4 linked regions of the Homo sapiens genome follow. The protein of the gene in region 3 purifies or fractionates together with the protein of the main gene of each other region. This does not show direct contact. Each region holds a gene or a part of one and is shown on either strand. Other genes may lie near its edges. The genes, in order: PEX14, IMMP2L, PEX1 and TRIM56.

Region 1 (7,893 bases), on a different chromosome or scaffold from region 3:
TCATCACTCACAACTATTGGACTTATCACTCCACCTTTCTGAGTATGTTTTCTCCTCTGTAAAACGAGAGCAATAATAGTTACCCTTAAAGCTGGGTGTGGTGGTGCATGTCTGTAGTTCCAGCTACTCAGGAGACTGAGGCTGGAGGATTGCTTGAGCCCAGGAGTTGGAGTCTGTAGTGCACGATGATCACATATGTGAATAAACCCCTGTACTCCAGCCTGGGCAACAGAGTGCAACCCTATCACTTAAAAAATAAATAAATAAAATAAAAAATAATTACCCTTTTAGTGTTGACTGAAATCACAGATGTGAAGAGCACCTGCTGCATAGTAAGTGCTCAGAGTTAGTTTTCTTCTCCCAGTCTTTACATGTAGTTTTGAGAGTCTGTTGAACTCTTGAATAACAGCAGGTCAGACAAGGTATTTGCCCTCTCAATGTTTTTTTTTTTTGTTTTGTTTTGTTTTTGAGATGGAGTCTCCCTCTGTTGCCCAGGCTGGAGTACAGTGGCTCAATCTCGGCTCACTGCAACCTCAGCCTCCCAGGTTCAAGCGGTTCTCCTGCTTCACCTGCCTCAGCCTCCTGAGTAGCTGAGACTACAGGTGTGTGCCACTACGCCTGGCTAACTTTTTTTTTTTTTTTTTTTTTTTTGAGACGGAGTCTTGCTCTGTCTCCCGATCTGGAGTACAGTGGCACAATCTCGGCTCACTGCAACCTCTGCCTCCTGGGTTCAAGCGATTCTCCTGTCTCAGCCTCCTGAGTAGCTGGGACTACAGGTGCCCGCCACCATGCCCAGCTAATTTTTTTGTATTTTTAGTAGAGATGGGGTTTTGCCATGTTGGCCAGGCTAGTCTTGAATGCTTGACCTCAGGTGATCCACCTGCCTCGGCCTCCCACAGTGTTGGGATTACAGGTGTGAGCCTGGCACCTGGCCTCAACTTTTTATTTTGAAAAATTTCTCACGTATAGAAAAGTTGAAAGGATAATACTGAGAACTTCTGTAAAATTCCCATAAAAACTTAACCAAGATGCACTGTTCACATTTTGCTGAATTTGCTTTATGTCAGTCTCTCTCTCTCTTTCTCTCTCTCTCTCTCTCTATATATATATTTTTTTTTTTGGAAGGATTTGTGGTAAGTTACAGACATCAAGGATATTTCATCCTAGAATATTTCACCTTATCTCTCATAAGAGTAAGGTTATTCCCCTGTATAACCACAATATCATTATCACACAAGAAATTTAAGTGTTGATAAATAGTATTATTTAAAACAGAATCTGCACTCAAATTTTCACACTTAAAAAAAATCAGAATCTAGTGAAGAAACAGAGATTGCATTGATTTGTCTCTTTAGTCTTTTTTTTTTTTCCTTTCCTTCCTTTTTTTTTTTGTTTGAGACAGAGTCTTGCTCTGTTGCCCAGGCTGGAGTGCAGTGGTGCAATCTTGGCTCACTACAACCTCCGCTTCCTGGGTTCAAGCAATTCTCCTGTCTCAGCTTCCCAAGTAGCTGGAATTACAGGTGCCCGCCACCATGCCTGGCTAATTTTTTTGTATTTTTAATAGAGACAGGGTTTTGCCATGTTGGCCGGGATGGTCTCGAACCCCTGACCTCAAGTGATCCACCCACCTCGGCCTCCCACAGTGCTGGGAGCCACCGCGTCCAGCCTTAAACTTTGTTTGTTTGTTTGTTTGTTTTTTGAGACAGGGTCTTACTCTGTCACCCAGTCTGGAGTGGAGAGGTGTTATCACAGCTCACTGTAGCCTTGACCTCCTGGGTTCAAGTGATCCTCCAGCCTCAGCCTCCCGAGTAGCTGGGACTATAGTCATGCACTATGATGCCCAGCTAATTATTTTTTGTAGAGGTCGGGTCTCGCTGTGTCGCCCAGGCTGGTCTTGAACTCCTGACCTCAAGTGAGCCTCCCACCTCAGTCTCCCAGGCTTCTTTTACTTAACACATATTTTTGAGATTCATTCATGATGAGAACAGTGACAGTTTATTATCACTGCTTTATACAGTTATTGTATGAATGTGTTTGGCCATTTATTATTAACCATTCTACTCTTTTTTTTTTTTTTTTTTGAGACAATGCCTGGCTCTGTTGCCCAGGCTGGAGTGCAGTGGTACGATTTCGGCTCACTGCAAACTGCTTCCCAGGCTCAAGCCATCCTCCTACCTCAGCTCCCCTGGTAGCTGGGACCACAGGCGCATGCCACCACACCTGGCTAATTATTTTTGTATTTTTTGTAGAGACGGGGTTTTGCCATGTTGCCCAGGCTGGTCTTGAACTCCTGAGCTCAACCAGTCTGCCCGTCTGGGCCTCCCAAAGTGCTGAGATTACCAGTGTGAGTGACCACATCTGGCCACCATTCTACTTTTTGTTTTTTGAGACTGAGTCTTGCTCTATCACCCAGGCTGGAGTGCAGTGGCATGATCTTGGCTCACTGCAACCTCTGCCTCCCAGGTTCAAGTGATTCTTCTGCCTCAGCCTCCTGAGTAACTGGGATTATAGGCACTGGCCACCATGCCTGGCTAATTTTTGTGTTTTTAGTAGAGACGGGGGATTCACCATGTTGGCCGGGCTGGTCTCGAACTCCTGACCTCAAGTGATCCACCTACCTTGGCCTCCCAAAGTGGTGGGATTATAGGCGTGAGCCCCTGCGGGTGGCCCATCTTACTTTTTTTTTTTTTTTTGAAATGGAGTCTCGCTCTGTCACCGGCTGGAGTGCAGTGGCGCAATCTCAGCTCACTGCAACCTCCGTCTCCCGGGTTCAGGTGATTCTTCTGCCTCAGCCTCCCAAGTAGCTGGGACTACAGGCATGTGCCACCATGCCCGGCTAATTTTTGTATTTTTAGTAGAGATGGGGTTTCTTCATGTTGGCCAGGATGGTCTCGATGTCTTGACCTCATGATCCACCTGCCTTGGCCTCCCAAAGTGCTGGGATTACAAGCATGAGCCACCGTGCCTGGCCTGAGCCATTCTACTTTTAATGGACATTAGATTGTTTCACCTTTAGGGTCATTACAAATAGTACTGCTGTGAAAATACCTGTACGTGTCTTTTTGTGAACATAATATGTGCATTTCTGGTGAGTTCATCTACGTTTTTTATTTTTTATGGTATTGACATGTTTGGAGAGTCTGGACTACTTGTTTTGTGAAATGTTCCACCATCTGGATTTGTCTGATTTGTTCCCTTACATTTAGATCCGGGTTAAACATTCTTTTGTGAGAATATTATGTAAGTGACGTTGTGTCTATCTGTGTATCATATCTGGAGGAACGAGTCCCATTGTCGAAGATGAAGTTTGATTGTTTGGTTAAGGTGGTGTCTATCACATTTCTCCATCATAAAGTTAACTTGCTAAATTAGTTGCTTTCTTTGCAACTTTGCTAGTATTGTTTTAAATTTTTGAGACAGGGTCTCACTCTGTCACCCTGGCTGGAGTGCAGTGGCACAGTCATGGCTCGCTGCAGTCGTGACCTCCTGGGCTCAAGTGATCCTCCTGCCTTGGCCTCCCAAAGTGCTAGGATTACAGGTGTGAACATGGCCAAGTTTTTCTTTTTTTCTTTCTTGAGATGGAGTCTTGCTCTGTCTCCAGGGTGGAGTGCAGTGGTATGATCTCGGCTTACTGCAATCTCCACTTCCCAGGTTCAAGCGATTCTCCCCCCTCAGCCTCCGGAGTAGCTGGGACTGCAGGTGTGCACCACCATGCCTGGCTAACTTTTTATATTTCAGTAGAGACGGGGTTTCACTATGTTGGCCAGGATGGTCTCAATCTCCTGACCTCATGATCCACCCGCCTCGGCCCCCCAAAGTGCTGGGATTATAGGCGTGAGCCACTGCGCCTGGCCTGGCCAAGTTTTTTTTTAGTATTTTAGTTTAATATTGTATTGACTGACAAAGTCTTATGGCCTAAACTTTACTGTGGAATTCTAATAGGTGTGTTGTGATCAGTTTGAGTTTTGACAAATTGTATATACGTGTGTAACCACTACCACCCTAAACCTGTGTAACCACCACTGCCACAAGCAAGATCAACAGTTTCAGTATCCCTAAACGTTCCCTTACGCCCCTTCCCATTGAATCCTTGCCTGTGGTCCTAGGAAATCTGAACTGTTTTCTATTACTATAGAGTATATTTGTCCCTCCTAGAATTTCATATGAATGAATTATGTATTCTTTTATGTCTTTTTTGGCTCAGAATAATGTTTGTGAAATTTATTTGTGTTATGGTATGTATCAGTAATTATCAGTAATGAATTACCTTTTTTTTTTTTTTTTTGAGATGGTATTTCGCTCTTGTTGCCCAGGTTGAAGTGAAGTGGCTCAGTCTTGGCTCACTGCAACCCCTGCCTCCTGGGTTCAAGAGATTCCCCTGCCCCAGCCTTCCAGTAGCTGGGATTACAGGCGCCCACCACCATGGCCGGCTAATTGGCTAATTTTTTTGAATTTTTAGTAGAGACAAGGTTTCACCATGTTGGCCAGAGTGGTCTTGAACCCCTGACCTCAAATGATTTGCCCACCTCGGCCTCCCAAAGTGCTGGGATTACATGTGTGAGTCACTGCGTCCAGCCAATTTTTTTTTGTTTAGTAGAGATGGGGTTTCACTGTGTTGGTCAGGCTGGTCTCCAACTCCTGACCTCATGTGATCCAACTGCCTTGGCCTCCCAATGTGTTGGGATTACAGGCGTGAGCCACTGCGCCTGACCATGAATTACTTTTTACCGCTGAGTAGTATTCCATCGTATGGATGGCTATATCTCAATTTGTTGATCTGTTCACCAGTTGATGGACATTTGTAGTAGTTTTTGATTCCTGCGTAACAGTATTACCACAAATTTAGCCGCTTGGCACAGCACACATTGATTATCTCATGGTTTCTGTGGGTCAGGAGTCAGGAAACCACTGGGCTGAGTCTCACCAGGCTACTATTGAGAAATCTGTCAGGACTGTGGTCGCTGACTAGGGAGGGGTCTGCTTCCTAGCTTGTGTGGTTGTTGGTGGCATTCAGTTCCTTATGGACCATGAGACTGGAGACTTTAGTGTGTTACTGTCAGCCAGCGGCCGCCCTCAGTTTCTTGCCAAATGAGTCTTCCCACTTGCCTCCTCAAAGCCAGCAGAAGAGAGAGTCTCTTAGTAAAGTGGACATTACCACGACGTATCTCACCCACATTAATGCAGTCACGTACATGCTGTCACCTTTGCCATATTGTGTTGGCCAGAAGCAAGTAACAGATCCTGGCCACATTTGAGTAGAAGGAACAGCACAGGGGCATGGATACCAGGAGGTGGGGATCATGGGGTCACCTTAGAGTCTGTTCCCCACAGGATTCCTTCTCATTCTGGGCTACTGTGAGTATTTGTGTATGTGTAAGTGTTTGCGAGGACATATTCTTCATTTTTCTGGGGAAATAACCTGTAAGTGGAATGGTAGGCTTATGTAGTAAGTATGTTTAGCTTTGTAAGAAACTGTCTAAATTGTCTAAATGTTTTTAGCCATTCTGGTGAGTGTGTAGTGTTATTTATTTGTGTGTGGTTTTTTTTTTTTTTTTTTTTTTTTAAGAGACAGGGTCTTTTTTGTCTTTGTCGCCCAAGCTGGAGTGCAGTGGTGCAATCATACATAGCTCACTGTAATCTCCAAGTCCTGGGCTCAAGTGATCCTCCAGCCTCAGCCTCCTGAGTAGCTAAGACTCAGGTGCATGCCACCATGCCCAGCTAATTATTTTTTGAATTTTTGTAGCGAGGGGGTCTTGCTGTGTTGCGCAGGCTGGTCTTGAACTTCTGGACTTGAGTAGCCCTCCTACCTCTGCCTCCCAAAGTGCTGGAAGTACAGGCATGAACCACAGGGCCGAGCCTAAATATTTTTTTGTTTTCAGGATACTGTTATATTTATGGATTTTATTTTTTAATTATTCAATGCTACTATGTAGAAATAAAATTGAATTTTATATATTGGTCTTGTATCTGCAACCTTGTTAACTTATAATTCTAGTAGTTTTTTTTTTTTTTTGAGACAGACTCATGCTGTGTCACCCAGGCTGGAGTGCAGTGGCGTGATCTTGGCGCACTGCAACCCCCGCCTCCTGGGTTCAAGCGATTCTCCTGTCTCAGACTCCCTAGTAGCTGAGATTGCAGACGCCCGCCACCACGCCTGGCTAATTTTTTTGTATTTTTAGTAGAGACGGGGTTTCACCATGTTGGCCAGGCTGGTCTTGAACTCCTGACCTCAGGTGATCTGCCTGCCCCAGCCTCCCAAAGTGCTGGGATTACAGGTGTGAGCCACCGTGCCCGGCCTCTAGTAGCTTTTTTGTACATTCCTTGTGATTTCTCTATAGATGATGGTATCATCTGCAAATAAAGACAGCTTTACTTCTTACCTTCCCATTAATATGCTTTTAATTTTTCTTGCTTTATTGCACTGTCTAGGACTTTGAGTGCAATGTTAAAAGTAACAGTGGAAGTGGATGTCCTTGCTTTGTTCCCCATTTTGGGGGAAATATTTTTAGTCTTCTACAGTTAAGTGTTAGCTATAGGTATTTTGTAATAGGTGCCTTTGTCAAGTTGAAGAAATTCAACCTTCATTTTTAGTTTGCTGAGTTTTTTTTTTTTTTTTTTTTAATCATATGTGTTTTGAGGCCAGGCACAGTGGCTCACGCCTGTAATCCCAGCACTTTGGGAGGCTGAAGCAGGAGGACTGCTTGAGGCCAGGAGTTCGAGACCAGCCTGGGCAACATAGCGAGGCTCTGTCTCTATACAAATTTTTAAAAAATGAGTCTGACATGGTGGCACATACCTGGAGTTCTAGCTACTCGGGAGGCTGAGGCAGGAGGATGACTTGAGCCCTGGATTTCCAGCTTACAATGAGCTATGTCACACCACTGCACTACAGGCACTACAGGCTGGCTGAAAGATGGAGACTCTGTCTCTTTTTTTTTTTTTTTTGAGACAGACTCTTGCTCTGTCACCCAGGCTGGAGTGCAGTGGCGCGATCTCGGCTCACTGCAACCTCCGCCTCCTGGGTTCAAGCGATTCTCTGCCTCAGCCTCCTGAGTAGCTGGGATTACAAGCATCCACCGCCATGCTTGGCTAATTTTTTTGTGTTTTTAGTAGAGATGGGGTTTCACCATCTTGGCCAGGCTGGTCTTGAACTCCTGACCCTGTGATCTGCCCACCTTGGCCTCCCAAAGTGCTGGGATTACAGGCGTGAGCCATTGCACCCAGCCTGAGGCTCTGTCTCTTAAAAAAAAAAAATTATTTTTGAATGTTGTCAGGTGCTCTTTTTTGTCTCTATTGAGTTGATCCTTTTGTTTGCTTCCTTTCTTTTATTAATATGGTGATTTATGTTGATTGATTTTTGAAATGTTAAACCAATTTTTTATTCATTGGATAAATTCTACTCGATGTGTTATGCTTTTTATATATAGCTGGACTCAATAGTATTTCGTTAAGGATTTTAACATTTATGTTTGTGAGGGATATTATTCTATAGTTTTTTTGTATGTGGATGTGTAAAATCTTTGGTTTTTATGTCAAGATAGTACTGGCCTCATGGAGTGAGTTTGGCAGTTTTTTTTTTTTTGTATTCTTTGAAACAGTTTATATAAGATTGCCATTATTTCTTCCTTAAATGTTTGATAGTATTTACCAGTAAAGCCATCTGGACGTAGAGTTTTCTTTTTAAGTTTTAATTATATACTTTATTACTTTTTCTTTCTTTCTTTTTTTTTTTTTTTTTTTTTTGAGACGGAGTCTTGCCCTATCGCCAGGCTGGAGTGCAGTGGCGTGATCTCAGCTCACTGCAACCTCTACCTCCCAGGTTCAAGCGATTCTCCTGCCTCAGCCTCCCAAGTATCTGGGACTACAGGCGTGCGCCACCACACCAAGCTAATT
Region 2 (7,893 bases), about 19 Mb from region 3:
CATCCAGATTAAGTCACTGGCCTGGACCTGTGGCTCCATTGGAGGGGAACTACCCATGGTATTGGGGATTTGGTAGTGAGGACTCAGAAGGGGTCATGCAGAATAATGACAAAGGAGAGGGGTTGTGAACTGAGAGAAAGGTGGCAGTCTTTTGCTCAGTCCATGAATTTAGATCAATGAATTACTTGTTTCCTAGAAAGAACCATCTTTTTCTCTGGCTTCTCTGTTGATCTTTGTCAACTGTTCCGCTGGAAACTCTTACCTTCTTAATGTCTACTTAGTCCAATAATAAGTTTTTTTCTTTGTCATCTTCATACTACCTGAATAACCATATTTTTCTATTTTTTTTAATGGTTAGGACTTAGTAATGGATATCTGTACTACAGTAACAGATGTCTGTACTAAAGATGTCTGTACGTTCTTAAGATCTGGTGTTTTTTTTTCTATACTCAAAGTCCAGTTGATTTTCTTGTTCTTTCATTGACTCGTACCTTATTCATTAACCTCGCCCCTCCTTTTTTTAGTATATCTATCTGCATTGAGCTAGTAATGTACATGGAACTAGTGACTGTGTGAATTGAACTAGTTAGGAGGATATAAAGATGAAAAGTCATCTTTGACCAAGGATCTTATAGTCTGTAGGACTACAGATATCTTGACCAATAGTTCAAATACTGTATGCTATTTGCTATAACAGAGGTAGGTACAAGTACAAATGAAATCTAGCAAGAGCTCTTGATCTCTGCCTGCAATACCAGGTAAGGGTTTTAGTAGTGGTTGTGTTTGAGCTGAGACTTGAAAACTGAGTAGGAGTGGGCATGTTGACAAGCAATAGAAAGCATTTCTAGGTAAAGCTAACAGCATGAGTAGTTGTGTGGCATTACGAGAACATAGTGTATACTGGGAACTATATGTAGGTCAGTTATATTAGAGTGTGAAGGACAAGGTCAGGAGTGAAAGGAGATGAAACTGGTTAGCCAGTTCAGGGTACACTTCCTAGATGAAACTGGATAGCCAGTTCAGGGTACACTTCTTATACCATGTGTAGTAGTGAGCCACTGAAGAATTGTGAGTGTCATGGAAGATCACTGAAAGCAGTGTGCTGGGTAGATTGAGGGTAGAGTGGGGTTGGGTGTGGGGTCATGGCAAGACTGGAAGCTTTCAAGGACAGTACATCAGTAGGGATAAGAGAGGTTGAAAGCTTAGATAAAGGTGGAAGTAGTGGGAATAGAGAAGTGAGAATGTTTAGGAAAAGTAAGATGAGGGAGAATTTGCTGGTCTTTGTGACTGTTTGAATGTAAAAGATATGGGAGAGGGAGAATGTTAGAATGCTTCCTAGGTTTCTGGGTTGTGAGTGGGAAAAGAGAAGAGGAAGAAGGTATGAGGGAGAAGAGAATGAGTTCAACTTTGGACCTGTGTTTAACATGCTCGCAGGGCATATCATTGGCAAGTGTGAGATGTCTAGAAGGCAGTTGGATATAGGATCCTGGAACATCACAAGAGATTGCAAAGGCTGGAGAAACAGATTTGTGTGTTCTTACCATATGGAGAGTAACTGAAGTATCCATAGATACGGATAAAAGTACATAGAGGAATTGTATAGAAAGAGAAGAGAAAAGGGCTAAAAATTAGTCTTAGAGAATGTAAAAATTTAAAGGAGAAACCATAAAAGAGAAAGATGTAAAGATGCTGAAGGAGAGTGGCCATTAAGTATGATGATGATTGTAAAGTTACAATCATCAATGACTGTTAGAAGTCACTGGTTTCATTGTAGTGGTGGAGGTAAAGCTATCGTGCTGTGGGTAAAGGACTGAATAGGAGATGAGGCTGAAGGGGGCTGGACATGAGAATAGAGAGTAGATATGCTTGGGTCCCTCTTAGGAGATAATTGTTCTTCAGTCAGGGTATTTACTTAATACATTTTATTGTGTATATTTAAGGAAAATAACATGTTATGGAATACATGTAAATAGTAAAATGGTTACTGTAGTGAGACATAGTAACATCCATCATCTTACATAGTTATCCATTTTTGTGTGTATGACAAGAGTAGCTAAAATCTACTCATTTAGCAAAAGTCAGGAATACAATACAGTATTATATAGTACTGATGCTGTACATGAGTTCCCAAACTCTTTCATTATACATGGCTGCTACTTTGTGTCCTTTGACCTACATCTCAATTTCCTTCCCCCTCCCCTGGGATCACTGTTTTATTCTCCATCTCTGTATGCACACATATTAGAATCCCCTAGAGAGCTTTTAAAAATTCCGACTGATATCTTTACAAGGTTGCGGTTTCATTTTCTTTGGGTATGTATATATATATATATATACATGCACACAGAAGAGGGATGGCTAATTGGTACAAAATAGAAGTAATGGTAGTTCTATTTTTAATTTCTTTAGGAACCTCCCTACTTTTTCCATAATGGTTGTACCAATAGTATACAAGGGTTCTCTTTTCTCCCACCCTCGCCAACACTTATCTCTTGTTTTATTTGGTAGTAGCCATCTTGATGGGTGTGAATATATGGAAACAACCTAACTGTCCAACAAAAGACAACAGAAAATCAAACTGCAGTACATATATAGAATGGAATATTATTCAGCCTTAAAAAAGAAATAGATTCTGCTTTTTGCCATAAGATAGGTAAACCTAGGGGACATTATGCTAAGTGAAGTAAGCCAAATGCAGAAAGAAAAATATTGTATTATCTCACATGTGGAATCTTAAAAAAAAGTCAAATACATAGTGAAATCATATCACTGCTTCAGATTTTATTTTTTGAGAGAGAAACAACATGTCTGTATGCTGTGAGTTAGAAACACCATAGAAAGGGAGATGTTGAAAATACAGTTGCCTGATTCCTTGCTTGTCATATTTTTTTTTTTGTGAATGAAGATTAGGTTGTCGCTTTGTTTGCCTACTCCTTCCCGGCTTGCAAAATTCATATCTGACCCCAACTGTCAGATATGAATTTTAAATGTCCTTTCTACTCTATTCTTTCCTGCCCCACAGTTCACTGCTGTCTTGCTCTCACTACGTCTGGCCCTTTTGCATACATTATTCTCTAACCTAATCCAGTTGTGCGTAAAAACTCCATTTTCCTTTATTAAAAGTTGAAAAATTTCACAGGAGTGTCTGCTAGGAGAATGGAGGAAATAATGATAACAAACATAAAAATCATTCAGCATAGCCAACATGTATTAATATCTGCTATGGTAAAGGCCCTGGATACAAAGATATATATGGCAGGAAGGATGAGTAACATAGGGATCTGATCTTAATGCATTTATGCCTAGTGCTCCATTATTGGAGCGCTAAGCTAGTGGGAGTTATTTATATCCTACTTCTCAAGGTCATCGCCAAGGCCTGATTTTTCACAAAAAAAATTTGCAACCTCCAGCATAAATGGGTTAAGGACCCCTCAGGGCAGTGAGAAAAATGGATATATAAATAAAGCAGCACCAGTACTTTGGGAGGCTGAGGTGGGTGGATCACCAGAGGTCAGGAGTTCGAGACTAGCCTGGCCAATATGGCAAAACCCCGTCTCTACTAAAAATACAAAAATTAGTCAGGCATGCTGGCATGTACCTGTAATCCCAGAGGCTGAGGCAGGAGAATCACTTGAACCCAGGAGGTGGAGGTTGCAGTGAGCCGAGAATGTGGTACTGCACTCCAGCCTGGGTGACAGAGCAAGACTCCATCTCAAATAATAATAATAATAATAATAAAATAAAAATAAAGCAATGCTTTGAGGGACAATATGTGCTATGATAGAGTTCAAGGTAAGATAGATGCAAAAAATGGACTTCATTATTTTTGTGATCCTGAAGGTCTCACAAAAGGTGATACCTGAGCTATAGCTTGAGATATGGCATGGTGAGGTTCGGGGAGTAAGATTAGGGGAATAAAATATTCCTTAATGGCCCCACGATAGCAGCAGAAGGGGCTTGGGTTTCTCATCTTCCCTTTCTTCTTGTTCTGCGTGATTTTATTGCAAGATATTTTTGTGTTTGAGGGAGTTCTTAGGGGGTTAATATGTTTCAGTTTACATATAGACGTATCAGCATTTTCTCCCTTGTGATATAAACTTTCTGTGAATTTACCAACACTGGTTTATTATATATTAGACAGCTAACACAAACCAGTGCAATTATATCAAGTATCTGGGGGATGAGGTCCAGGCAGTGATATTTTCAAAGCATCTTAGGTGTCCTCATGGCAGTCAGGGTGGAGAACCACTGGGCTAAAACATGGCTTAGAAGAAAAGGCTGGGATTTGGAGCTAAAAAATTGTAGATTAGATTCTTGAATTCCTTTTAATAGTTACGTATCCTTAGTTAAGTTACTGAGACTTCTCTAAGGCCATCATTGAAAAATAGGATGGTAGTATACCCGTCCTGCCTACCTGTTTTGCAAAGTTATATGGCTCAAAAGAGGAGATTTGTGTGAAGGAACATTATATGCAGATGTGATTATAACAATAAAATGTTCTCTTGACCTTCTCCAGAAGTGGACAGGCTTAAGAGCTGGCTACCTTGTCCTGTAAGATAGGAACTACTTTATGGATTTTGATTTAATATTTTACCATCACGAGCATTTTGATGATATATTTTACTACATTTGTGTAATGCTACAAGGTTGAAGACCTAAAGCCAAAATGCAGAACCTTAAAGAAATAGCAGTTGAGCATTTCCTGTCTGATATATTCTAATTGTTTAAAATTACACAGATGCTTATTGTAATTAAGATTTAAGTGTGTAGTCTCAGTGTCAGTAATATTTTAGTATTAAAATTCTCTAAATGTGTTAAGTGTTTATTTTCATGATATGCACATTAAAAATAGCCATTTTCCAGAAAATAGTAACAACTCCACAGAGCACAATGGAGCACCACAAATGGACTTATTTTGGAGATTCCCATTATATTCGTTAAGAATGCAGGGACATATACTGTGTCTCTGTACTGTAGGAAGCTTGACATACTAGTATCAGTCATATAATCGTGTAGGAATGATCATCCTTACAGTATTATACCTTATTTTAGTTGAGAAGAAAGTGGTATTGTTTAATGACAAATTGAACCTAAAGCCTAAAGACTGGGTTCCAGATCTGTTTTCTCTACTCATTCCTATATGATAATTGGTAAATTAACCTCTCTGAGCCTCATATGTAAAATTGGGTTCTCTGTTGTTTTGTAACATGAAAACCTTAGTGGCTGAAAACAACAATGATTGTTTGTTATCTCATGGTTGCTGTGGGTCAGCAATTTGAGGGTCCTTGCTTGGTTCTCTGGAGGTTGCTGTCAGATATCAGCAGGAGTGGAAGTTTTATAGGAGCATCACTGGAGCTAAAAGATTCACTTCCAAGGTGGCTTACTCACTTGGCTGGCCAGTTGGTGTTGGCAGGTTGGTTCCTTTCCACAATGGGCTTGCCGTGGGACTATTCTCATGAGATGGCAGATGACTTTCCCGAGATTCAAGCTGCCAAAGTAGAAACTGCAGTGCCCTTTATGACTTACCTGTGGAAGTCATACACCATCATTTCAGATGTATTCAATTGGTTCTACAGACCAGCCCTGATTCAGTATGGGAGTGGATTACACAAGGACATGAGGCAAGGATCATTGTGGACTGTCTTGTGAGGGTAGGCTCTCTGAGAGGATAACAGTCTCTACCTGACATAGGATTGCTTTGAGTTTCATTGTAAGCATTTATGTGAGAGTCCTTTGTAAACCATTAAAGCAGCATATAAATGTGTTATAGAAGTGATGGTGGCTCACACCTGTAATCCCAGCACTTTGGGAGGCCGAGGCAGGTGGATCACTTGAGGTCAGGAGTTTGAGAACAGCCTGGCCAACATAGTGAAACTCTGTCTCTACTAAAAATACAAAAATTAGCCGGGTGTGATGATACATGCCTGTGATGCCAGGTCCTCAGGAGGCTGAGGCAGGAGGATCTCTTGAACCCTGGAGGTGGAAGTTGCAGTGGGCAGAGATTGTGCCCGTGCACTCCAGGCTGGGTGACAGAGTGAGACTCTGTCTCAAAACAAAACAAAACAAAACAAAAATGATGCTATTCCTTTTGACCAGTAAAACTGAATGGAAGTTGAATTATTTTGCTTTGTGCCATGTTAGCATTATGACACACCTTGCTCCAAATCCTTTCCTGCTTGCTTTACCTTATATCTTACTTTATATTCAAGAATTCTCCCCCTTTAATAATCAGCTAGAACAAAATAGCCTTTTTCAAGTTTCTCACATCTCTGGTGTAGAAGTAGTACATTGAATGGGAGAAAATTATAAACGAGCAGTGGCTATAGCATGAACTTGTTGGTCATCTGAGTAATAGCCTCAGGTTTCATTCTAGAGCATCTCCTTGAGGAAACCTCTGAATGCCTTCTTTGTATTTCTCTTTTAGTACTTGCTCTACCTTGCCTGGATTATAGTCTTACCATATTTTTTACTGGAAAATTCTTAAGGTAGTAGGGGCTATATTTCCTCCTATTCAGTGTCTTTTATCACCTTTAACCTAATGCTTTGTACTTCACTGGTGCTTAATCAGTGTTTACTGAGCTGGACTGCTGGCAGAACTCGAGCCTTTGTGCTTCCCTGAAACTTCAGATGAAGAAGGTTGTATTTTGCTGAGGTGGTAGTGATGGTGGTGGTGGATCCTGCCAGAACCATCTTTGAGCCTGTCTTATAGGTCCCTGATTTGCCACTGGAGCCCTTAGCCTCTCATAAATGACTCAGATATTTGGACTCTTTGTTAGTTGCTTAGCCTGGCTTCCTCACCGATGACCAAAGCAAGCAAGTGACCACACACACACACACACACACACACACACACACACACCTCTAACAGTCATACCTAACATACCTAACATACTATTTGTTACTAAACATATTGTATGTTTTTGGTAATACATAGTACGTTAGGTATAACTTTCAGAATCTCATTGAACTCTTGCCCAGTTTGGTAATACATAGTATGTTCTTGACTTCTTAGATTAAGAATACCCAGAATATAAAAGTGTACAACTTTCTTTCAGGCAATAAATCATAAAAATTTAATATTTGTACTTTTTTCCAAGTTATTCTGAGACATAGGTCTTTGTCACACACACTTTTATATATCTTTCCTTTGAAAAATGTAGCATTTACAGTCAACTTTTGAAAAATCATCTTGCTTGTCGCTGGGGGACACATTGCAAACAGATTATCAAGTTCTAGTTACGGAATTGTATACAGCAAAGACTTTTTTTTAAAGAAGGGAAATGTTTGTAATGTCATCATGTTTTGTATTTTAGGATAATTTCATTTCATATGATTTTCCCATTATGTAAACCAATAAACAAATTTGTATCAACTCAGGATTCTTTTCTCCTTGTTGCTGCAGATTTTCTCCTGCAGATTTATCTGCTGACTTCCCTCTTTAGCAGTTCTTTGCTTCCTTAGCCCCACTACCTGTCTTCTCCATCTCATTTGTACCTGACTCCTTCCCTGTCTTTGGACTCAGTATACTGATGACCATTAGAGGATAAGCAGGCTACAGTGGGCAGAGCAGATGTTATGAGGAGCAATGTGTGTGTAAATAAGAGCTGTGCAGAAGGTTAGCATTGACAGCCAAGGATGCTTTCTACTAAATAGTTAACAGAGGACCTGTGAAGTAATAATTGATAGGAGAAGATTAAGATTGCCGCAGATATTTTGCCTTATTTAAAATAGACTTTTTTTTAGGGTCTTTTGGTTCACAGTAAAATTGAATGGAAGGTACAGAGATATCCCATTTACTCCCTGCCCTCACACATGCATAGCCTCTCCTGCATGATCAACATCCCCCACCAGAATGGTACGTTTGCTACAATTGATGAAACTACATGGACACAT
Region 3 (7,893 bases):
AGTCTGGAAAACAGAGTGAGACCTTGTCTCAAATAAAAAAAGAATGAATTGATAGAGATCTAATGTACAACCTGACAACTATAGGTAATAAAATTGTATTGGGGATTCATGTTAAATGAGTAGATTTTAACTACTCTTACCACAAAAACACAAAAGTGGGTAACTGTGAGATGATGTATATGTTAATTTACTTCACTATAGTAACCATTATACTATCTATATGTAGCTCATAACACCATGTCGTGTATATTAAATATGCACATTAAAATTTGTTTTTTAAAAAAAGAATTGAGATTTTTTTTAACTAGATATGGAGTGGACAAAATGTAAAGTGAATTGATCTTTTCGTCTGTTGGTTCTAGGAGCTGCATGCTGTTTCCCTTGAACAACATCTTCTAGATCAAATTCGAATAGTTTTTCCAAAAGCCATTTTTCCTGTTTGGGTTGATCAACAAACGTACATATTTATCCAAATTGGTAGGTGCTATTGTAATATTTGCTGTCATATTCTACACTATAGCATTGAGTCCAAAGTAGAAATGAATGTGCACTAATGAGCTTTATTTTCTACACAGTTGCACTAATACCAGCTGCCTCTTATGGAAGGCTGGAAACTGACACCAAACTCCTTATTCAGCCAAAGACACGCCGAGCCAAAGAGAATACATTTTCAAAAGCTGATGCTGAATATAAAAAACTTCATAGTTATGGAAGAGACCAGAAAGGAATGATGAAAGAACTTCAAACCAAGCAACTTCAGTCAAATACTGTGGGAATCACTGAATCTAATGAAAACGAGTCAGAGATTCCAGTTGACTCATCATCAGTAGCAAGTTTATGGACTATGATAGGAAGCATTTTTTCCTTTCAATCTGAGAAGAAACAAGAGACATCTTGGGGTTTAACTGAAATCAATGCATTCAAAAATATGCAGTCAAAGGTTGTTCCTCTAGACAATATTTTCAGAGTATGCAAATCTCAACCTCCTAGTATATATAACGCGTCAGCAACCTCTGTTTTTCATAAACACTGTGCCATTCATGTATTTCCATGGGACCAGGAATATTTTGATGTAGAGCCCAGCTTTACTGTGACATATGGAAAGCTAGTTAAGCTACTTTCTCCAAAGCAACAGCAAAGTAAAACAAAACAAAATGTGTTATCACCTGAAAAAGAGAAGCAGATGTCAGAGCCACTAGATCAAAAAAAAATTAGGTCAGATCATAATGAAGAAGATGAGAAGGCCTGTGTGCTACAAGTAGTCTGGAATGGACTTGAAGAATTGAACAATGCCATCAAATATACCAAAAATGTAGAAGTTCTCCATCTTGGGAAAGTCTGGGTTAGTATAAATTTTATAACTTGGGAGAAATTTTATGTGGCTTAAACATCCCCAAATTATGAATTAGAATAGTATTTCATATATAAATTGAAAATCAATTAAAAAGAAACACAGTGCCTAAAGGCACTTGGGGGACACATTTACGCTTTGCAGTAAAGTCCTTGTTTGGATAAAGATTGTATGTTTTCTGGCCAAGTAAGCTTGAATAGGTACAAGCTTAGATAGGTTCAGGCCAGAGAGGTCAAAATTACTTGCCTGAGATTGCATAGCTAGTGTTACAACTAGGATTCAAACCCAGGCAGATTGACTTGGGGGTTCATCAGGATGGAGTGCCCTACAAAGCCTCCCATCTTTAATGCTTGCAGATTTGTTCCCCAGTTACCGAAAGCAACTTGTTAATATTAGGGAAAAGGGCCAGTGTAGGGAGAGATCCATGGCATGAGGTAACCTTCCTGCTGCATGTGGTGGCACCTGGATTGGAATGCATCCAGGAGCTGCTTACCCTGCCGGTGTCTGCTCTTTAATTTGTGTATAACGGAGAGGAAGTAGACAGGGCAACTAGTGCTCCAGCCCCTCATCCTGGCCACAAATATTAATGCTACCTTTATATGACATAAGTCACTAGTCCATTTATTGGAACCTAAATTTGAACCACTGTAAAGTAAGACTTCATAGTGATAAAGAGAGGAACTTGTTAGGAAAGAGAATAAAATAGAAAGAGAAGGTTGTCTCCTTTTGTAGATTTTTTTTTTTTCTCCAACAGTTTTACCTGTGACCTTTATACAAATAACTGACAAAGCATTAATCTCTTTGGCCTACATCATTTTCTTTTCTATTTTTTTTTTCCACAAGATGGAGTTTCACTCTTCTTGCCCAAGCTGGAGTGCAGTGGCATGATCTGGCTCACTGCAACCTCCGCCTCCCACGTTCAAGTGGTTCTCCTGCCTCAGCCTCCTGAGTAGCTGGGACTACAGGCATGCACCACCACGCCTGGCTAATTTTTTGTATTTTTAGTAGAAACTGGGTTTCACCATGTTAGCCAGCCTGGTCTGGAACTCCTGACCTCAGGTGATCTGCCTGCCTCGGCCTCCCAAAGTGCTGGGATTACAGGCATGAGCCACTGCTCCTGGCCGGCCTACATCATTTTCTAAAGCTCCAGACCATTCTTTTCTTTTCTTTTCTTTTCTTTTCTTTTCTTTTCTTTTCTTTTCTTTTCTTTTTTCTCTTCTCTTCTCTTCTCTTCTCTTCTCTTCTCTTCTCTTCTCTTTTCTTTTCTTTTTTTGAGTTAGAAGCTTGCTTTGTTGCCCAGGCTGGAGTGCAGTGGCACCACCTCCACTCACTACAACCTCCACCTCCCAGGTTCAAATGATTCTCCTGCCTCAGCCTTCAGAGTAGCTGGGACTACAAGTGTGCGCCACCACTCCTGGCTAATTTTTGTATTTTTAGTAGGGACGAGGTTTCACCATGTTGGCCAGGCTAGTCTTGAACTCCTGGTCTCAAGTGATCCGCCTGCCTCAGTCTCCCAAGGTGCTGGGATTACAGGCGTGAGCCACTGTGCCTGGCCTCAGATCATTATTTTCTGTTAGCTTTAAACTGTCCGTTCAGGAGATCCCACTGCATCCTCAAATTCAAAATATCTAACACTGAGCTTATGATTTAGCTGGTTCTGTCATTAGATGGGAATATCCTTTTATTTCCTTGAAATTATATGGTGAGAACAGGGAGAAGTGCTGATGGTAAAGTCCTGTGATTAAGATAGCAATAAGGACTCCGCCCTTCCCACTCCACTGAAGGTTGAAGAGCCATGGACAATGAGAAGTCACAGTAGGTGAAATCAGGTACTAAAATGGACTTGGCTTGAGAGATCAAAATTGATCACTTGGTGATACAACTAACAAATTCATGTTAACTTGAACCTTTATTACCCTGTGAAGCATGGTGATTAAAAAAAAACAACAAACAAACAGGAAACTTGATTGTTAAATTCTCTTTAAGTCAGAATATGTACCTTAGAGTTTTTATTTATGCTTTTGTCTACCATTAATATGTCTGCACCTGCTCTTTAGAAGTTAATAGAGAGTAAAGTCGTCTTTATGTCTTTCAGTGCTTACTTATATTTGGGAAGTTGAGAAAAATTTTTAACATCATTATTGATATATATATATATATATATATATATATATATATATATATATATATATATATATAGATAATTTTTTTTTTTTTCTTGAGACGGAGTCTCACTCTGTCGCCCAGGCCGGAGTGTGGTGGCGATCTCCACTCAATGCAAGCTCTGCCTCCCAGGTTCAAGCGATTCTCTTGCCTCAGCCTCCCGAGTAGCTAGGATACAGGCTCCCACCACCACGCCTGGCTAATTTTTGTAGTTTTAGTAGAGACGAGGTTTCACCATATTGGCCACGCTGGTCTCAAACTCCTGACCTTGTGATCCGCCCACCTCGGCCTCCCAAAGTGCTGGGATTACAGGCGTGAGCCACTGCGCCCGGCTGAGGTAAAATTTAAAGTGTACAATTCAGTCATTTTTAGTATATTTATACTAGTTGTACAGCCATCACCACAATCTAAGTTTAGAACATTTTCATTAGGGGGTGGGAGAAATTTTACTCTGCTTTTTAGATTAAGTTTCTGTCTGGATCTAATCATTTAATCAGACAATCAGGCAGATTGTCTGTGATTAGTTTTGGCCATTCCAGCTTCTTCATTGGTTGTTAACTTTCACAAATAAAGGCTGCTCAAAGATTAGAAATAACATTTAATTTGAATGTAAATGTGCCATAGTTTAAAAGATGGGTTTGGTGAATACAGTCAAATACATACATTTAAAGCTCTAATTCTGAAGATTATGTAAAGAAAAGGAAAGAAATGTAGGGAGAGGATTGAAATGTTCATGGTATAACAATATCTGAACATCCATCTGGTCACACCGTTGGTATTTGAATGTTTTGTCCTCCTCAAATTCATATGTCGAAATCCCAACTCCCAAGGTGATCGTATTAGGAGGTGTGGTCTTTGGGAAGTGATTAGGTCATGAAGGTGAAGCCTTCATGAATGGGATTCGTGCTCTTATAAAAGAGAACTGTGAGAAATAAGTTTCTGTCGTTTGTTAGCCACCCAGTTTAGGATATTTTGATATAGCAGCCTGCATGGACTGAGACAACTATGAGTTATTATGATAGCTTCTGTTATTTCACCTAAATTCATAGAAGCTAATATATCAATATTTATGCTATGAAATATTTCTTAACCAAGCTTTGAATATATTTATATTTTTGTTTATTTTTAAATTTCAGATTCCAGATGACCTGAGGAAGAGACTAAATATAGAAATGCATGCCGTAGTCAGGATAACTCCAGTGGAAGTTACCCCTAAAATTCCAAGATCTCTAAAGTTACAACCTAGAGAGAATTTAGTGAGTTCAAATATATATGTTACATCAAAATTCTTTTACACGTTTTGTAAGATTTCTAGTTGCTTTAGCTAAGTAATAAGAATGTTGTATTCCTTTTTGATACAAATCTTTTTTTATTGTGTTAAACTATATATAACATAAAATATGCCATGTTCGCCATTTTTAAGTGTATAATTCAAAGGCATTAATTACATTCATAATATTGTACAACCATCACCACTATCTATATCCAGAACTTTTCCATCACCCCAAAGAGAAACTTGGTACCCATTAAACAATAATTCCCCGTCCACTCCTTTCCCCAGTCCCTGGTAATCTCTAATGTATATTGTGTCTCTATGAATTTACTTATTCTAGATATTTCATATATAAGTAGAAGTATGCATTTGTCTTATGTATCTGACTTATTTCATTTAACATAATGTTTTCAAGGCTCATCTGTGTTGTATGTATCAGAATGTTATTCCTTTTCATGGCTGAATACTATTCCATTGACTGCATATACCACATTTGTTTATCCATTCATCTGTTGATGGACACTTGGGTTGTTTCCACATTTTTGGCTGCTGTGAATAATGCTACAGTGAACATTGGTGTACAAGTATCTGTTTGAGTTCCTCTTTTCAGCTCCTTTGGGATATACCTAGGAATTATGTTTAACTTTTTGAGAAGCTGAGAAATCTTTAATAAATGATAACACAAATACTTATATTTGCCAATGCAAATATGAATATTTTTGGCTTTTAAGAGATTGATCATTTTGCCACGTGGTTGTAATTAAAAAAAATTGTCCCATGTTGTTTCAGTATTAATATTGTAGCCTAAAAGAGTGCTAGACTGTTTTACTTTTTACTCAGTTAATTCTTTGGATACTGGTAGAGTCAGGAAATGAGATATTGAACTTAAAGATCTTTGCAGGTGGGGTCCAGTGGCTCACACCTGTAATCCTAGCACTTTGGGAAGCTGAGGTGGGAGGATTGCTTGAGGCCAAGAGTTTGAGAATAGCCTGGGCAACATAGCAAGACCCCATCTCTACAAAAAAATTAAAAAAAAAATTAAGCCAGGCGTGGTAGCTCACGCCTGTTATCCCAACACTTCGGGAGGCTGAGATGGGTGGATCACTTGAGGTCAGGAGTTGGAGACCAGCCTGGCCAACATGGTGAAACCCCATCTCTACTAAAAATACCAAAATTATCGGGGCGTGGTGCTAATCCTGTAATCTCAGCTACTCAGGAGGCTGAGGCAGGAGAACCACTTGAACTGAGGAGGTGGAAGTTGCAGTGAGCCTAGATCTCACCACTGCACTCCAGCCTGGGTAACAGAGCGAGACTCTATTTCAAAAAAAGTAAAAATAAAAATTAGACACATGTGGTGGCACATGCCTGTAGTCCTAGCTACTCAGGAGGCTGACTGAAGTGGGAGGATCTCTTGAGCCCAGGAGTTCCACACTGCAGTGAGCTATGATTGTGCCACTGCACTCCAGCCTAGGCAATATCTCAAAAAAAATTTTTTTAAATAGATTATTAGGCCAGACGTGGTGGCTCATGCCAGTAATCCCAGCACTTTGGAAGGCCAAGGCAGGCGGATCACCTGAGGCCAGGAGTTTGAGACCAGCCTGGCCAACATGGTGAAACCCCATGTCTACCAAAAATACAAAAATTAGCTGCAATGTCTATAATCCCAGCTACTTGGGAGCCTGAGGCAAGCGAATCGCTTGAACCCGGGAGGCAGAGGTTGCAGTGAGTGGAGACTGCGCCACTGCACTCCAGCCTGGGCGATACAGCGAGATTCTGTCTCAAAGAAAAAGGAATTTGTTTTCCTGTCTTTATCGTAGAGGGAGGAAAGGGAGAATGGGGTTGGAATGGTTATTGAGTGAGCCACATTATGGTAGATGTATCACTGGGCATAGAGAAAAGGAGCATTTAAAACTTTTCCGCCTAACAGATGTTTCTTCAGGCTACACTGCACTCATTGTGCTAACTGTAATGTCAAATCCCAGACCTGTGCCTATAGAACATGAACATCCTTCATTGGATTTGTTTGGTCAGGCTTACACTTTATTAGGAAGATCAGATGTTAAAATAAGGGTGTTAAAGTTAAGTTCAGATATGAGGATAATTCATTACTATTCCTTTTTCTGGCAGCCTAAAGACATAAGTGAAGAAGACATAAAAACTGTATTTTATTCATGGCTACAGCAGTCTACTACCACCATGCTTCCTTTGGTAATATCAGAGGAAGAATTTATTAAGCTGGAAACTAAAGATGGTGAGTACATTTGTTATTTTGACTTTTTTTTCTATTTAAATAGTTGTACATTTTTAATTGTTCTTGCAACCTGTCATACCTGTGAACAGTATGTGAATAGTGAAATATAATTATGATAATTAAACAGTAGTTTTTATGTATTGAAAAATATCTTTGGCCGGGTGCAGTGGCTCATGCCTGTAATCCCAGCACTTTGGGAGGCCGAGGCAGGCGGATCACTTGAGGCCAGGAGTTCGAGAGCAGCCTGCCAACATGGCGCAACCCTATCTATACAAAAAAATACAAAAATTAGCCTGACATAGTGGTGTATGCCTGTAGTCCCAGCTACTTGGGAGGCTGAGGCAGAAGGATCACTTGAGCCCAGGAGGTCTGTGTTCCTGCCACTGCACTCCAGCCTGGGCAGCAGAGTGAGACCCTGTTGGGGGGAAAAAAAAAAAAGTCTTTAACTTAAATAAATTTGACATTTAAAATCTTAAATTATTTCATCTCTGTTTCAGTACTAACTCTGCATTTATTACTTTCTTTTTAATAGGACTGAAGGAATTTTCTCTGAGTATAGTTCATTCTTGGGAAAAAGAAAAAGATAAAAATATTTTTCTGTTGAGTCCCAATTTGCTGCAGAAGACTACAATACAAGTAATAGCATGTTATTGAATATTTAATAAAATACTATTTGTTACATATGATTGATAATAAAGTATGAAGTTCCTTGTAACACCTTGCATTGTGAAGTGTATTAAAAACCTGCTAAGAGTAAGGAATAACTTGATTTAAAATATTTTATTCTGTAATCTCTTTAAATTATCTGTACAAATTATTGACTTAACCTAAATTTAAAAATGAATGCCTTAGCAC
Region 4 (7,893 bases), 8.6 Mb from region 3:
GTTCTAGTCATTGCATGTATTAGAGACCAAGGCTTTCCTCGTCAAATCAATTCTGCATGGTTTTCCCATCTTCTTGGTTTTCTTTTTTTTTTTTTTTTTTTAATTTTTTATTGATCATTCTTGGGTGTTTCTCGCAGAGGGGGATTTGGCAGGGTCATAGGACAATAGTGGAGGGAAGGTCAGCAGATAAACAAGTGAACAAAGGTCTCTGGTTTTCCTAGGCAGACGACCCTGCGGCCTTCCGCAGTGTTTGTGTCCCTGGGTACTTGAGATTAGGGAGTGGTGATGACTCTTAAGGAGCATGCTGCCTTCAAGCATCTGTTTAACAAAGCACATCTTGCACCGCCCTTAATCCATTTAACCCTGAGTGGACACAGCACATATTTCAGAGAGCACGGGGTTGGGGGTAAGGTCTTAGATTAACAGCATCCCAAGGCAGAAGAATTTTTCTTAGTACAGAACAAAATGAAGTCTCCCATGTCTACTTCTTTCTACACAGACACGGCAACAATCTGATTTCTCTATCTTTTCCCCACCTTTCCCCCTTTTCTATTCCACAAAACCGCCATCGTCATCATGGCCCGTTCTCAATGAGCTGTTGGGTACACCTCCCAGACGGGGTGGTGGCCGGGCAGAGGGGCTCCTCACCTCCCAGACGGGGCGGCCGGGCAGAGGCGACCCCCCACCTCCCGGACGGGACAGCGGCCGGGCGGAGGCGCCCCCCACCTCGCTCCCGGGCGGGGCGGCTGGCCGGGCGGGGACTGATCCCCCACCTCCCTCCCGGAAGGCGCGGCTGGCCGGGCGGGGGCTGACCCCCCACCTCCCTCCCGGACGGCGCGGCTGGCCGGGAGGGGGCTGACCCCCCACCTCCCTCCCGGACGGGGCGGCTGCCGGGCGGAGGGGCTCCTCACTTCTCAGACGGGGCGGCTGCCAGGCGGAGGGGCTCCTCACTTCTCAGACGGGGCGGCTGGGCAGAGACGCTCCTCACCTCCCAGACTGGGTCGCGGCCGGGCAGAGGCGCTCCTCACATCCCAGACGGGGCGGCGGGGCTGAGGTGCTCCCCACATCTCAGATGATGGGCAGCCGGGCAGAGACACTCCTCACTTCCTAGATGGGATGGCGGCCAGGAAGAGGCGCTCCTCACTTCCCAGACTGGGCAGCCGGGCAGAGGGGCTCCTCACATCCCAGACAATGGGCGGCCAGGCAGAGACACTCCGCACTTCCCAGAGGGGGTGGCGGCCGGGCAGAGGCTGTAATCTCGGCACTTTGGGAGGCCAAGGCGGGCGGCTGGGAGGTGGAGGTTGTAGCTAGCCGAGATCACGACACTGCACTCCAGCCTGGGCAACATTGAGCACCGAGTGAACGAGACTCCGTCTGCAATCCCGGCACCTCCGGAGGCCGAGGCTGGCGGATCACTCGCGGTTAGGAGCTGGAGACCAGCCCGGCCAACACAGTGAAACCCCGTCTCCACCAAAAAAATACGAAAACCAGTCAGGCGTGGCGGCGCGCGCCTGCAATCGCAGGCACTCGGCAGGCTGAGGCAGGAGAATCAGGCAGGGAGGTTGCAGTGAGCCGAGATGGCAGCAGTACAGTCCAGCTTCGGCTCGGCATCAGAGGGAGACCGTGACCATGGAAAGAGAGGCAGAGGGAGACCGTGGGGAGAGGGAGAGGGAGAGGGACCTTGGTTTTCTTTCTTTTCTTTTTCTTTTTTTTTGAGATGGAGTTTCATTCTTGTTACCCAGGCTGGAGTGCAATGGTGCGATCTGAGCTCACTGCAACTTCCACCTCCTGGGTTCAAATGATTCTCCTGCCTCAGCCTCCCAAGTAGCTGGGATTACAGACGCCCGCTCCCACGCCTAGCTAATTTTTGTATTTTTAGTAGAGATGGGGTTTCTCCATGTTGGCCAGGCTGGTCTCGAACTCCTGACCTTGAGTGATCCACCCACCCCAGCCTCCCAGAGTGCTGGGATTACAGGCTTGAGTCACCGTGCCTGGCGCTTGGTTTTCTTATAATCTTCATTATTCTTTGCTGTGCCTACCTTTGTAATTTGTAGATAATGGAATGTGTCCACCCGGACTTTGATGATGTCCTGCATTGTTTCAATAAACAAGAAATGGTTTTCCCAGAAAGGGATTTTCTTTTCCCTCTACCTATGCCCTGCACATTCCATCTGGACTTGTCCAAAATCCCTCTGGTTCCCACGAATGCCCCACTGTCCACAGTCCCCACATTAAGACCCCCTTCTGCCATCTCTCAACAGCCCCTGGCTAAAAACATTCTCCAAGCCTACTTGCCCCCTCAATTCTACCACTGCCACCACTTATGAAAAGGTCCGGTGGTCACAGCCCACCTCCGACGGGTTCCTCCCTTCTGGTTTGACACCTCTATCCGTCGCAGCCCCATTGCACCTTCTAGGTTTTCTTGGCACCTCCAAGTTCCACTTGGCCTGCAGGGTTTAGCTGTTTCCCCAGCAATAGTGGCCCACAGAGGACAACCTTCCTTCACCCCCTAGTTCAGCCGAGTGAAGGCCAACATATCTCAAAAGGAATTTTGCTGGAAAATGAAGAGAAGGCAACACATAGACCCTGGGAAATGGAAAGACACCGAAGCAGAAGCGTTGGAGCCTAGAGATTTTTCTATCCTATGTACCTCTTCCCTCAGACTGGCTCCGTGGCTGCGTGGAGGGCTCCCCTGCTCTGACACTCATAACTTGGTATTTATTTATTTATTTATTTATTTATTTATTTATTTATTTTAACACTTGATCTTAGCTGAGAAGTGATGGATAACCTGCTTTTTCTGTTGTTTCTGTTTTTTTTTTTTTTTTTTTTTTTCGAGATGGGGTCTGGAATGCAGTGGTGCGATCATAGCTCACTGCAGACTCAAACTCCTCGGCTCAAGGGATCCTCCCACCTCAGCCTCCTGAGTAGCTACGTTGAAAGGCATATGCTACTACACGCAGCTAATTTTTAATCTTTTGTAGAGATGGGGTCTCGCTATGTTGCCCAGGCTGGTCTCAAACTCCTGGCCTCAAGCAATCCTCCTGCCACAGACTCCCAAAGTGCCGGGATTATAGGCATGAGCCACTGCGCCTGGCAGAGCCTGGTTTTTTTTTAATACTTAATCTTAGCCAAAAGGCTGAGAAGCGATGGAGAATGTGGATTTTTGGACGTGAATTCTGTTGGGTTTGGTTTTCCAGTAGCCTATTCTCTTCGCAGCCTTTGAACCTAACACCTCTTTGGCCCCAGCTGCTGTCTGCACTTGCAGACCCTCCTGCAAGCTCACCCTGTACTACCGCCGGGGGATGCCGTGATCAAGGAGCATCCTGCCTGTGGCTGGCAGAAGAGGCCATTCACTGCCCATTCGAAATCTCAGGCCTCCTCTGACTCTGTAGGACCCTGTGCCAGTCCAAGGGGGGCCGGGGTCTCAGCTCTGTTCCACAGTGCACACGCCTGACCCACCCTGGGCCCTTCTTGGCCCCAAGACTCTCCCTCGGCTACTCTATCAGGAATGGTTTTGAAGAATGCAAAGCAGGACAGGCTCACAAACCTCAGAAACCTAAACTATATAGCAGCGGCGGTGGTGGCAGCAGCCACCCACAAAAAGCAAGAGGCAGGTGAACTCCCAGCATCCCCCTCCACCCACCTGCCTCCTCTGCTTCTGAGAGTTAAGGTCACGCCACCACCTTGGTCCCTATTCTCACACACTAGAAGACGGGTTAGCAGTTTGGCACTCCATGTTGAAAAGTTGCCAACCCCTGCCCTTCAGGAAAATGTCCTCGGCCTCCACCTCCCACGGACAGCTCTGCCTCCTTCCTGCCCTCTCCCTCCCCACTCCCTCTCACCCTAGTCCTAGCCCCTTTAACTGTCCGGAGAACGGACCCGAAAGATGTGGATGGTCCCGTTACTGAGGGACACGACCAGGTACCTGCCATCCACCATGGTGGTAACCCGGGGCTTTTCCAGGCCGTGGTAGGCTGTCAGGAAGTCTCCAAGGAGGGACCCCTTCGGGTCCAGGATCACCACCTTGTTGACTTCTCGAAGGGTCAGAAAGATGTAGCCCTTCTTATCCACAGACACGGAGCCCGGCTGGCAGCCATGCAGGCCTGGCCCCTTGTACTCCCCAACCACCTGGCCCAGCCCATCACAGATTACCACACTATTCTGCTGCCAGTCCGACCCCACGAAATGCCCCTGGGGGCTGGTGGTCAGAAACACCAGCGCCCGCAGGCCCCGGCTGGCCTTGCCTCCAGGAATGAACCGGGTGGCCAGGCTGCCTTCCATATTGTACACCTCCACGTGGCCCGCCACGCTGACAGCCACGCGGTCCCCGCTAGGCAGTGCCGCCACCGCGTGGCTGGCCTGGGAGAGGCTCAGGGCCCTGCGCCACTGCACTTCGCCGTTGGGGTTGATGAGATAGAGCCGTGCGCTAGCGGAGAAGGCCACCGCGCTCTGCAGGGCGGCCACGCTGCAAGGGGAGCAGCCCTCAGGGACCGGCACGGTGCCCTTGTAGTCGCCGTTGAGGGAGAAGCGTTTCAGTGCCCGGTTCTGCTCATCCGCCACCAGGATCTCCCGGGGACCGAAGGGACAGAGCCCGGTGATCCGGGGGGACCGCTTGTCTCCAGGCATCCGCGTGGGGAAACTGCAGTAAAAGATGGGTCTGGGGAGGAGGCCAGAGCCGTCCAGATTCGGCCCCAGGGCTGGGCTGGGCTCCCGGGAAATTGACTTGAGCCTGCCTTTGAACTTTTTCTTCTTGTTGGGTCTGCCACCCCTGTGGGGCTGGGGTCCTCCATCCTCGTGGGGTGTCTGGGCCCTGTCCTCCTCCAAGGTCTGGGCTCCCTCTTCTCGGGTTGTCTGGGCTTTTTCCTCTTTTGGGGTCTGGGCTCCATCTCCAGCCTGGGGCTGGACTCCACCCTGTCTCTCAGTCTTCGGCTCATCCTCCCTCCGGCTCTGGCTCTCCTCACCTCCCTGGGTACCAGCTCCGTCTTTCCCACCATCCTTCTGGGGCTGCTGCTCCTCAAAGGACAGCCGAAGAAGGTGGCAGTTCTTGTCCAGGAGCCCAGGATGGAGCTCCAGCTGTGGGAGCAGGCAGGGGGCCGGGCCTGGTGCCCAGGGGCAGCCCTGCAGCTGCCTGAGCCGCTGTGCGATCGCCCCTTCCAGGGAGAGGATCTCGGCCTCTCGCCCCAGGCTGAGTACCCGGCGGGCGAAGGCGGCTGCGGCCCTGGCCACCTGCTCCCGGCCCTCAAGCTCCGCCAGCCTCTCCCGAGCAGCTTCTTCGGCAGCCTCCACGTGGGCTCGTAGCTGCCCCAGCACCTCCTGCTTCTGGGCCAGCAGGGCCCGGAGGACGCCCTCAGCCGCCTCCTCCACCTGAGTCCCCACCCGGGCCGCCTGCTCCCGCAGCCGGGCTAGCGCCTCCTTCTCCACCCTCCGCGCTGCCTCCAGCTCCACCAGGTTATTGTCCACACCGGCCAGCAGTCCCTCCAGGCCCGGCCTCCGGGCACGCACAGCTTCAGCCAGAGGCAGGCAGGGGTGGTCCAGGTGGGGGTCTAGGCGGCACTCTCTGCACAGCAACTGTGAGCAGGGCTGGCACAGGAAGCGCAGTGCCTCCCCGGGGTGCTGGGGACACTGGGCCGCTTGGCGCTCCCGGGCCTCCTCATCATACCACCCGGCCCTGTAGCCCACCAGGTCCACCACGCGGTGGGTGTGGGTCTGGCGGGTGCAGCGGTGCCCGTCGGCACAGGCCTGGCACAAGTCATCGGCACAGTCCAGGCACCGGGCCGTGGCCGGCCCCCCGGTGCTGGTGCCACCCACCAGGGGACACAGGGCACAGGCTGGCTTCCCGGCACGCAGGTCTCCACAGGCCCGGGCCTTCACCAGGTCCAGCAGCCCATTGACGAAGAAGTTGGTCTTGAAGGAGGCCACACCCTCGGGCGGCACAGGCACTGTCTCGCGGCACTCGGGGCAGCGGACGCGGCCGCCATCCGCCAGCTGTGCCAGGCAGTCTTGGCAGTAGGTATGCAGGCAGGGCAGTGTCTTGGGTGCCCGCAGCTGCTCCAGGCAGATTTTACAGGCCAGGAAGTCGCTGCTCAGGGCCTCCAGGAGGGAGGGCGAGGACCCGTGGGAAACCATGCTGCAGGCAGAGGCGTCAGGATCAGAGTTGAGAAGGCACCTTCACCAGCTCACCCTCTAGCTTCTACCGCCCGTCCTCAAGCCCCACGGATCCCCAGGGCTAGGGGCTGACCCAAATGGCCGGGAAGGAACCTGAGGTCTCACCTGAATGGCCAGGAACTTCCTTCTAGTCTTCTGAGGCCTTGGGCCACTTGCTCTTGAGCTAAGGAGCTGCCCTCCTCCTTCTCCTCCTCCTCCTCCACTTCCGTGTGTACATCCAGCAAACGTAAAAATGTCAGTGCTACTTGTTGGGTCAGACCTGTGAGAACTGACAAGACCAGGAGTCCCTGGCCTTAGCTAATAATCGAATCCTCAGTGTCCCCAGTCCACAGGCCTTGTGGCAAACATGGTGGAAGCCCTCCTGTGTGCACAGGTACTGGGGTCCTGCTGTATAGGGTGCCAGGGTGCGAGGAGCAGGCAGTAAGGACACAGACGGGGATCCCAGTGGGCAGAGATGCCTAGGTCCTGCCAGTTGGGGTAGGATCTTGCAGTAGCTTAGGGGGCTTTAATCCTCCAAGCCCCATACACCTGCCTTCTTTTTATTTTATTTTAGTTTTTAGCAATAGGGTCACCCTCTGTCACCCAGGCTGGAGTGCAGTGGCGTGATCGTAGTTCACTGCAGCCTCAAACTCCTAGACTCAAGTCTTTTGAGTAGTTGGGAGTACAGGCATGTGCCACCATGCCCAGCCTTTTTTTTTTTTTTTTTTTTTTTTGAGACAGAGTCTCACTCTGTTGCCCAGGCTGGAGTGCAGTGGTGCGATCTTGGCTCACTGCCACCTCCACCTGCCAGGTTCAAGTGATTCTCCTGCCTCAGCCTCCCGAGTAGCTGTGATTACAGGTGCGCACCATCACACCCGGCTAATTTTTGTATGTTTAGTAGAAATGGAGTTTGGCCCTATTGGCCAGGCTGGTCTTGAACTCCTGACCTCAGGTGATCCGCCCTCCTCGGTCTCCCAAAGTGCTGGGATTATAGGCGTGAGCCACCATGCCCAGGGGCCCAGCCAGCCCATTTTTTAAAAATTATCACTTTTTGTAGAGATGGGGTCTTGCTATGTTGCCCAGGCTGGTCTCCAACTCCTGGCCTCAGGCTATCCTCCCGTCTCGGCCTTCCCAAAGCATTAGGATTACAGGCATGAGCCACCGCACCCGCCTGGCCTTACACCTGTCTTCTGCTAGACCTGGGGCAGCATCGCGGGTGGTGGAGGCCCCACTTTCTGCATTTAACAGTTTCTAAAGCGGATTCTGGAGCGGGCAGAAAAAACGCTAGGGGAAGGGCTGGTCCCCTTCCCGCTGCTGGCTCACCCTCTGATAGACTTGGCCTTGGCTTATCTCCTGGAGTCCTGTTCTTTTAGCTTTTCCTGCTGAATGCATTCCAGAAACCTCTGGAGGGAGGGAGTCCCGAGCTCCTGGCACAGTGGCTGAGACCTACTTGTTGGGCAGACTAGGTGGAATGTCCCCTTTTCTGGAGCTGGGAGGAGACCTCAGAGAGTGGGACGGGGTCTTTCTTGCGGGGACCTGTGGCCACGGAGCGGGAGGGAGGCGAGTGCAGTTTCCCTCCTGCCCTCTCCTCCTGCCTTCCGGGTGCCTCTTCACGCCCTCCCTTTCCTTCCCTTCCTCCTCCTCCCGCGCTCTCTCTCCACTCCCCTCCCCCTACTCCCTCCGCTCGGTCCTTCCTATAGCTGTGCCGCCCCCCACCCCTTACCTAGCCAGAGCTGATCTTGACCT

Evidence for each region.
Region 1: the proteins of PEX1 (region 3) and PEX14 purify together in Homo sapiens (pull-down; one large-scale study listed by IntAct). This does not show direct contact.
Region 2: the proteins of PEX1 (region 3) and IMMP2L purify together in Homo sapiens (co-immunoprecipitation; one large-scale study listed by IntAct). This does not show direct contact.
Region 4: the proteins of PEX1 (region 3) and TRIM56 purify together in Homo sapiens (affinity purification with mass spectrometry, with the first as the bait; one study listed by BioGRID). This does not show direct contact.

What each region holds. Positions count from the first base shown.
Region 1 is NC_000001.11:10,479,761-10,487,653, forward strand, and holds part of PEX14 (peroxisomal membrane protein PEX14), read left to right. Parts: intron 1-4,732; exon of another isoform or gene 4,733-5,277; coding exon of another isoform or gene 5,278-5,355; intron 5,356-7,893. UniProt on the Homo sapiens protein: Component of the PEX13-PEX14 docking complex, a translocon channel that specifically mediates the import of peroxisomal cargo proteins bound to PEX5 receptor.
Region 2 is NC_000007.14:111,550,462-111,558,354, reverse strand, and holds part of IMMP2L (mitochondrial inner membrane protease subunit 2), read left to right. Parts: intron 1-7,893. UniProt on the Homo sapiens protein: Catalyzes the removal of transit peptides required for the targeting of proteins from the mitochondrial matrix, across the inner membrane, into the inter-membrane space. Known to process the nuclear encoded protein DIABLO.
Region 3 is NC_000007.14:92,510,725-92,518,617, reverse strand, and holds part of PEX1 (peroxisomal ATPase PEX1), read left to right. Parts: intron 1-362; coding exon 363-477; intron 478-575; coding exon 576-1,342; intron 1,343-4,650; coding exon 4,651-4,770; intron 4,771-6,914; coding exon 6,915-7,038; intron 7,039-7,570; coding exon 7,571-7,674; intron 7,675-7,893. UniProt on the Homo sapiens protein: Component of the PEX1-PEX6 AAA ATPase complex, a protein dislocase complex that mediates the ATP-dependent extraction of the PEX5 receptor from peroxisomal membranes, an essential step for PEX5 recycling.
Region 4 is NC_000007.14:101,085,549-101,093,441, reverse strand, and holds part of TRIM56 (E3 ubiquitin-protein ligase TRIM56), read right to left. Parts: 5' UTR 7,871-7,893; intron 6,437-7,870; 5' UTR 6,274-6,436; intron 6,131-6,273; 5' UTR 6,130-6,130; coding exon 3,862-6,129; 3' UTR 1-3,861.